2 separate regions of the Homo sapiens genome follow, and region 2 is linked to region 1. Evidence: fine-mapped expression QTL. Tissue or cell type: whole blood. Region 1 holds a variant in brackets; the other region holds the start of a gene. All regions are shown on one strand. Distances are between the middles of the regions.

What was found. PIP is the estimated chance that this variant, and not a neighbour inherited with it, causes the effect.
Region 2: FCER2 starts here. The variant in region 1 is fine-mapped to the expression of FCER2 in whole blood (TOPMed, PIP above 0.99).

What each region holds. Positions count from the first base shown.
Region 1 is chr19:7,721,327-7,725,564 of GRCh38, reverse strand. No RefSeq gene overlaps it. Among named protein-coding and RNA genes, the nearest start is that of CLEC4G, 8.7 kb to the left of the region's middle. RefSeq lists an enhancer at 4,037-4,238. The variant A/G (reference allele first, on the strand shown) is at 2,471.
Region 2 is chr19:7,700,225-7,704,462 of GRCh38, reverse strand. FCER2 (Fc epsilon receptor II) reads left to right here and starts at 2,332. Exons shown (of 11, transcript NM_001220500.2): 1 at 2,332-2,448. LOC105372262 (a long non-coding RNA gene) reads left to right here. Exons shown (of 5, transcript XR_936296.2): 5 at 1,342-1,383. RefSeq lists an enhancer at 2,336-2,445.

The DNA of each region.
Region 1 (4,238 bases):
CTTGGCCTCCCAAAGTGCTGGGATTACAGGCATGAGCCACTGTGCCTGGCCCTGATTTCAGTTTTCTTAACAAAATACAAATCAGGACCTGCCAAATGAGAAGATACATAGGGTGAGGTCTGGGAAGGTCCCAAACACGGAGCTCCTGTGTCCTTCCCCATAACGTCAGCACACATCACTCTCTCTATGCCTTCCCCACTCTCAGGGTGATGGGTTCACCAGCCAGGAAGCTCCAGAGCTCGGTGTCCTGAGTTTTTTTGGGGTTTCAGTATGTAGGCAGGATTGATCCAATTACTCCTTCAGTGTTTCAGTTTTGTTTGTTTTTTTTTTTTGAGACCCGGTCTTGCCCTGTTGCCCAGGCTGGAGTGCAGTGGCATAATCATAGCTCACTGCAGCCTCAACCTTCTGGGCTCAAGTGATCCTCCCACCTCTCAGCCTCTCGAGTAGCTGGAACTACAGGCACATGTCACCACCCTGTCCAGCTAATGTTTGTATTTTTTGTAGAGACGGGGTTTCACCATATTGTTCAGGTTGGTCTTGAGCTCCTGAGCTCAAGTGATCCTCCTGCCTTGGCCTCCCAAAGTGCTGGGATTACAGGCATGAGCCACCTCACAAGGCCTCGGGAGTTTTTAGTGGGGTCTCATTACACAGGAAAGATTGACTGAATCGTTGGCCTTGTGATTGAACTTTATCTCCAGTCCCCCTTTTGGTCAAGTGGCTGCAAATTCCAACCCTCATGGTTGATGTATCTGGCATGACCAGCACCCATCCTAAGCCACCCCCTCATATAAACCCAAGTGTGGTCCAGGGCCCTGATGAATAACAAAGACTCACAGCACTTGGAAAATTCCAAGGACTTAGACACTTCCTAGCAGGAACCAGGGACAAATTCTTTACCACACGAGCTCCTCCCATCTTGAAATCCATCATCACGTCTGCAAAGTGTCTTTTGCCATATAAAGTGATGTTCACAGGATCCAGGGATGAGGACATGGTATATTGCAGGTCATCACAAATCTGTGTTAGCCAGGGTTGTCCAGGACTGAACTGATAGGATATGCGTGTGTGTGTGTGTGTGTGTGTGTGTGTGTGAGATATAGTTAGGATATTTGTCCCCACCCAAATCTCATGTTGAAATGTATCCCCAGTGCTGGAGGTGGGGGCTGGTGGGAAGTGTTTTGCATCATAGGGGCAGATTCTTCGTGAATGGCTTGGACCATCCCCATGGTGATAAGTGAGCTCTCACTCAAAGTTCACATAAAATCTGGTTGTTCAAAAGTGTGTGATACCTCCCCTGCCACGCTGTCTCTTGCTCCTGCTTTCGCCATGTGAGACACCTGCTTCGCCTTTGTCTTCTGCCATGATTGGAAGCTTCCTGAGGCCCCTCCAGAAGCAGATATCTCTGCTATGCTTCCTGGACAGCCTGTAGAATCATGAGCCAATTAAACCTCTTTTCTTCTAAATTACCCAGTCTCAGGTATCTCTTTATAGCAATGCAAGAATGGCCTAACACAGCTGGGTGTGGTGGCTCACGCCTGTAATCCCAGCACTTTGGGAGGCCGTGGCGGGCAGATCACTTGAGGTCAGGAGTTCGAGACCAGCCTGGCCAATATGTTGAAACCCCATTTCTACTAAAAATACAAAAATTAGCCAGGTGTGGTGGCGGGTGCCTGTAATCCCAGCTACTTGGGAGGCTGAGGCAGGAGAATCACTTGAACCTGGGAGGTGGAGGTTGCACTGAGCTGAGATCACACCATTGCACTCCAGCTTGGGTGACAGAATGAGACACCATCTTGAGGAAAAAAAAAAAAAAAGAACAGCCTAACACAATATTAAAGGGAGTTTATTTGGGAGAATTAGCTCACACAATTATAAGGCGAAGTCCCATAGTAGGCTGTCTGCAAGCCCGGGAAAGACAGAAAGTGGTAGTGTGGCTCAGTCCAAGTCCAAAAGCCTCAAAAATCATGGAAGGAGACAGTGCAACCTTCAGTCTGCAGCCAAAGGCCCGAGAACACCTGGGAGGCCACTGGTGCAAGTGCCAGAGTTCAAAGGCCAAAGAACCTAGAGCCTGATGTCCAAGGGTAGGAGGAGAGGAAACCAAGTGATTGGCACAGCAGGGGAAGAGAGAGGGAGCTGACTCAGCGAGCAAGCCAGCTTCTCCCGCCTTCTTCCACCTGCTTTGTTCTAGCCACGCTGGCGGCCGATGGGATGGTGCCCACTCACATTGAGGATGGGTCTTCCTCTCCCAGCCCACGGACTCAAATATCAACCTCCTCTGATAACATCCTCACAGACACACCCAGAAACAATGCTTCACCAGCCATCCAGGCATCTCCCTCCATCCGGTCAAGTTGACACCAGGTGTTAACCATCATAGCATCACAGCACAGGGCAGAGCCATCTGAGATAGACTCCCAGGTGGGACAGCAGTGAGATACTTACCTAGAGGTCTAACTACTTGATGAGCCAG[A/G]TTAAGTGATTGTCTGGATGATACAGACAGATTGTAATCAAACATACTGACAATGAGGTGGCGACTCCGGATCGAATGAAGAACAACAGAGACAGAACGACAGACGGACTTCATGGCTGGGTGTGGTGGCTCACACCTGTAATCCCGGCACTTTGGGAGGCTGTGGTGGGTGGATCACCTGAGGTCAGGAGTTTGAGACTAGCCTGGCTAACATGGCAAAACCCCATCTCTATTAAAAATACAAAAAAATTAGCCAGGCATGGTTGTGGGTGCCTGTAATCCCAGCTACTCAGGAGGCTGAGGCAGGAGAATCACTTGATCCCGGAAGGTGGAGGTTGCAGTGAGCTGAGATCACGCCACTGCACTCCAGTCTGGGTAACAGAGTGAAACTCCATCTAAAAAAAAATTTTTTTTTAAAAGAACAACAGATGGACTTCAAGTCTGACCGACAGCCTCAATGGGGAGCCCCTGCCAGGCTGTCGTGACAAATGTACAGCAACAGCACGGGCAGGCACAAGAGGTTTCAGCATCTCCCCTGAGGATGGAGCTGAGAAAGTGCCAGCTGTGGCTGAGGCAGAAGGAAGAGAGGCTGAGTGCAGTGGTGTGCACCTGTCATCCTGAAACCCACCCAACAGTCTCATAGAACAGGGGTCCTCATCCCCCAGGCCGCAGACCGGTACTGATCTGTGCCCTGTTAGGAGCCAGGCCACACAGCAGGAGGTTAGCAGCAGGTGAGCAAGCAAAGCTCATCTGTGTTTACAGCCACTCTCCTTTGCTTGCATGACCACCTGACCTCTGCCTCCTGTCAGATTAGCAGTGGTATTAGACTCTCACAGGAGCATGAAGCCTATTGTGAACTGCACATCGAGGGATCTGGGTCATAGGATAATCGAATGACTGATGATCTCTCACTGTCTCCCATCACCCCCAGATGGGACTGTCTTAGTTGCGGGAAAACAAGCTCAGAGTTCCCACTGATTCTGCATTATGCAGAGTGGCATAATTATTTCATTACATATTAAAATGTAATAATTATAGAAATAAAGTGCACAATAAATGTCACGCAGTTGAATCATCCTGAAACCATCCCCCACCCCAGTCTGTGGAAAAGTTGTCTGCTGGGTGCAGTGGCTCATGCCTGTAATCTCAGCACTTTGGGAGGCTGAGGTGGGCAGATCACCGGAGGTCAGGAGTTTGAGACCAGCCCAGCCAACATGGTGAAACGCCGTCTCTACTAAAAATACAAGAATTAGCTGGGCATGGTGGTGTGCACCTGTAATCCCAGCTATTCGGGAGGCTCAGGTGGGAGAATGGCTTGAATCTGGGAGGCGGCAGTTGCATTGAGCCGAGATCACGACACTGCACTCCAGCCTGGGCAACAGAGCAAGACTCTGTCTCTAAAAAAAAAAGAAAAAGAAAAATTGTCTTCTCCAAAACCGGTCCCTGGTGCCAAAAAGGTTAGGGATTGTTGCCATAGACAGTTCTTTTCAATAAACATAGAAATTGACCCTGTGGTCTTTTTTTTTTTTTTGAGACGGAGTCTCGCTCTGTTGCCCAGGCTGGAATGCAGTGGCGCAATCTCGGCTCACTGCAAGCTCCACCTCCTGGGTTCACGCCATTCTCCTGCCTCAGCCTCCCGAGTAGCTGGGACTATAGGCATGCGCCACCACGCCCAGCTAATTTTTGTATTTTTAGTAGAGACAGGGTTTCACCATGTTGGCCAAGGTGGTCTCAAACTCCTGACCTCCAGTGATCCACCCACCTCGAC
Region 2 (4,238 bases), 21 kb after region 1:
CCAGAACAGCTGGGACCATGCTGCCTTGTCTGTCACCCTGGACCGAGTGACCCTTGGTGCATGCCTGTTGAGTGAATGACTGACTCTGGTGGTCTGAGGCTGTTCATTTTGGGTCCCAAAATGTCCCCTCCACCTTGATCTGGGGTAATGGCCGAGGACCAAGATGGTAAAGAAGTGAGGGAGGGTCCGGGTGCGGTGGCTCATGCCTGTAATCCCAACACTTCGGGAAGCCGACGTGGGTGGATCACTTGAGACCAGGAGTTCAAGACCAGCCTGGTCAACTTGGTGAAACCCCATCTCTACTACAAATACAAAAAATTAGCCAGGTGTAGTGGCGCGTGCCTGTAATCCCAGGTACTTGGGAGGCTGAGGCAGGAGAATCACTTGAATCCGGGGAGGCAGAGGTTATGGGGAGCTGAGATCATGCCACTGTACTCCAGCCTGGATGACACAGCAAGACTCTGTCTCAAAAAAAGAAAAAAAATCAAAAAGGAAGGGAAAGAGTTGGCCGCTGAGCATTGGAGAGGTGGCTGGGGGCTGCTGAGTGGACATAGGGACAGCATTTGAGGCCAAGCCAGGGTGGGGTCACTGGGGGATTAGTCTTGAGGGCAGGTCGGGTTGGGGATCCTAAGGGGGGGTCTGCCGTGGTGGCCAGGTGGGAGTGAGGACCCTGGAGGGTCTGTTTTGGGGGGCAAGACAGGAGGTAGAGCCCCAGGGAAGGCTGTCATGGGGGCAGGATGAGAGTGGGGAGGCCATGGAGGAGGCAGTCCCAGGGACAAGGCAAACCAGGCAGGGGGAACCCTAAGAGGGGGATGTCACCTGGTCCAGGGGGAAGAGGGAGCAGCTGTGGGGATGGGGAGAAGCAGGTTATTTTTTTGAGACGAGCCAGGCGCGGGTGCTGGGTGAGCGGTGGGGTGGAAGATCGGGAAGTGCTTGGACAAGGCCTGGACCTGGGCCGGGGTGTCTGGGTGGATGGACGGACTGTCCCACCAATGGGGACACACGAGGAGAAGGAGGAGGAAGCTTGGGAATAAGTCCAGCTGGGCCATGTTGTGAGGACATGGGGATGAAGTCTTAGTTCCAGGATGGGGCTGGGATGGAGTTTGGTGTTTCTTTTCTGTTTTTCTTTCTTTTTTCTTTTCTTTTTTTTTTTTGTGAGACAGAGTTTAGCTTTTGTTGCCCAGGCTGGAATGCAATGGCGCGATCTCGGCTCACCGCAACCTCTGCCTCCCGGATTCAAGCGATTCTCCTGCCTCAGCCTCCCGAGTAGCTAGGATTACAGGTGCCCACCACCATGCCCAGCTAATTTTTTTTTTTTTTTTTTTTTTTTTGTATTTTCAGTAGATACAGGGTTTCACCATGTTGGCCTTGAACTCCTGACCTCAGATGATCCACCTGCCTCGGCCTCCCAAAGTGCTGGGATTACAGGCGTGAGCCACTGTGCCCGGTCTCTCTCTCTCTCTTTCTCTCTCTCTTTCTTTCTTTCATCTCACTGTGTTGCCCAGGCTGATCTTGAACTCCTGGGCTCAAGTGATCCACTCACCTCTGCCTCCCCAGTAGCTGGGATCACAGGCATGCACCACCATGCCCTGCTAGTTTTTATAGTTTTTGTAGAGACAACGGCTTGCTATGTTGTCCAGGCTGGTCTTGAACTCCCAGGCTTAAGTGATCCTCCCACCTCAGCCTCCCAAAGTGCTGGGATTACAGGCGTGAGCCACCGTGCCCAGCCAAAACTGTCCATATTTGACCTGAATATTATCTCACGTATCTTTCTTTCCCCCCGCTTCCCTCCTTCCCTCCTACTCCTCCTTCTCCCTCTCCTTCCTTCTGTCTTTTTTTTCCCCTTCCTCTGCCTCTCTCTCCTCTTCCCTTTTTTCTTGCTGGGACTCAAACCTGGGACATTTGACCTGGGAGCCTATTTGCTCAATCATCAAGAGACATAATCTCATGGTGGGGTGTCTGCTGGTAAGTGCCGGGTGGCAGGATCCCAACTCCAGGCCGTCCTTCTAACCCAAGAGGCCCTGCCTCTGCCTAGAGCCTTCCGTGGCTCCCCAGGGCCCTCTGTGATCGGCCATAGTGGTATGATTCAGTGTGCAGTAACAGTGGTTCACATCTTGACGCTACCACTCACCTCCTTCAGCCCTGTGGGAACTTGCTGCTTAACATCTCTAGTTCTCACCCAATTCTCTTACCTGAGAAATGGAGATAATAATAACACGGACTTCACCCGGGTGTGGGGAGCACCAGGAGAGGCCATGCGTGTAATGTTATCCGGGTGGCAAGCCCATATTTAGGTCTATGAAAATAGAAGCTGTCAGTGGCTCTACTTTCAGAAGAAAGTGTCTCTCTTCCTGCTTAAACCTCTGTCTCTGACGGTCCCTGCCAATCGCTCTGGTCGACCCCAACACACTAGGAGGACAGACACAGGCTCCAAACTCCACTAAGTGAGTACGTATCTGGTGTGTTGGGGGTTGGCCATGGGAAGTGGAGATCAAAGCGCCCTTGGAAGAAACGACCTTGGGCTGAGCCTCAAGGGATGACCAGCAGGAGGTCACAACCAGAGAAGGGAGGTGGTGGGTGGTGAGGGGGCGGGGGTGGGGGCCGCAGTGTGGACAGAATCTCGAGGCATTCGAGTCCCTGATTTGGGGAAGTGAAAGCAGGCCATCTGGTCTGAGATGAGCTTGGTGAGTGCGCTGGGCCGATCATAGAGGGCCCTGGGGAGCCATGGAAGACTCTAGGCAGAGGCAGGACCTCTTGGGTTAGAAGGACGGCCTGGAGTTGGGATCCTGCCACCCAGCACTTACCAGTAGACACCCCACCATGAGATTATGTCTCCAGATGATTGAGCAAATGGGCTCCCAGCTCAAGGGTCCCGGGTTTGAGTTCCAGTCCCACCACTGCGTGATGGGGACAAATGACTTACCCTCTTGGAACCTCAGTTCCACTGAGAGAGGCCCCACAGAATGAGGACAGTCCCCCAGCATCCTGCCAGTAGGTTTACTGAGCACCTACTGTGTGCTGGTGCTTTGAATACTCCCAATTTACAGATGAGCAAACTGAGCTGCTCATCCAGGAAGAAGCCAGGACTCGGACTCAGGTCTGTCCAGCTGCCTCCCTGGACAGTTCCAGTCCCAGGATGGTCTCTGGGTTCCTCTCACAATGTCAAAAGGGCCAGCTTGAGCTGCCGCTAATCAGAGCCTGGCCGCGCCACACCCCACCTCCCTGAGGCTCCGAGAGAAGGGACTTACCTATAGTCAAGCAGCGAAAGAAGGTAGCCCGTGACCTCCAGGCCTGAAGGACCCCAAGTCCCATGCTCCTCAGCACATAGTAGATGCTTTAAAGTCAGAGGACTTGGTCGGGCGCAGTGGCTCACGCCTGTAATCCTAGCACTTTGGGAGGCTGAGGAGGGCAGATCACCTGTGGTCAGGAGTTCGAGACCAGCCTGATCAATATGGTGAAACCCTGTCTCTACTAAAATACAAAAATTAGCCAGGTGTGGTGGTGGGTGCCTGTAGTCCCAGCTACTTGGGAGGCTAAGACAGGAGAATCGCTTGAACCCGGGAGGTGGAGGTTGCAGTGAGCCAAGATGGTGCCATTGCACTCTAGCCTGGGTGACAGAGCGAGACTCCATCTCAAAAAATAAAAAAATAGGCCATGCACAGTGGCTCACGCCTGTAATCCCAGCACTTTGGGAGGCCGAGGCGGGCGGATCATGAGGTCAGGAGTTTGAGACTAGCCTGGCCAACATAGTGAAAACCCGTCTCTACTAAAAATACAAAAATTATCTGGTCATGGTGGCACGTGCCTATAGTCCCAGCTACTCGGGAGGCTGAGGCGGGAGAATCGCTTGAACCCAGGAGGTGGAGGTGGCAGTGAGCCGAGATCGTGCCCCTGCACTCCAGCCTGGGCAACAGAGCGAGACTCCATTTCAATAAATAAATAAATAAATAAATAAAGTCAGAGCACTTTACAGATGCCCTGGGGACATTGGCAGAGGAGAAGGCTGAGGCCTGGGTTATGGGCTCTTAGCATTTCTCAGTGGGACGTGGCACAGAGTAGATGTTTCATAAATGTTTAGAATCCGAAGACCCACTGTGCGCAGCCCGGCACCAAAAACCTCAGGTATGCTGTGATCTCATTGGATCCTATCTTGGCCTCATGAGTTGGGTGCTGTCATCAGCCCATTTTACAGAGGGGAAAACTGAGGCTGAGAATGGTTGAATCCTTGGCTGAGGTCA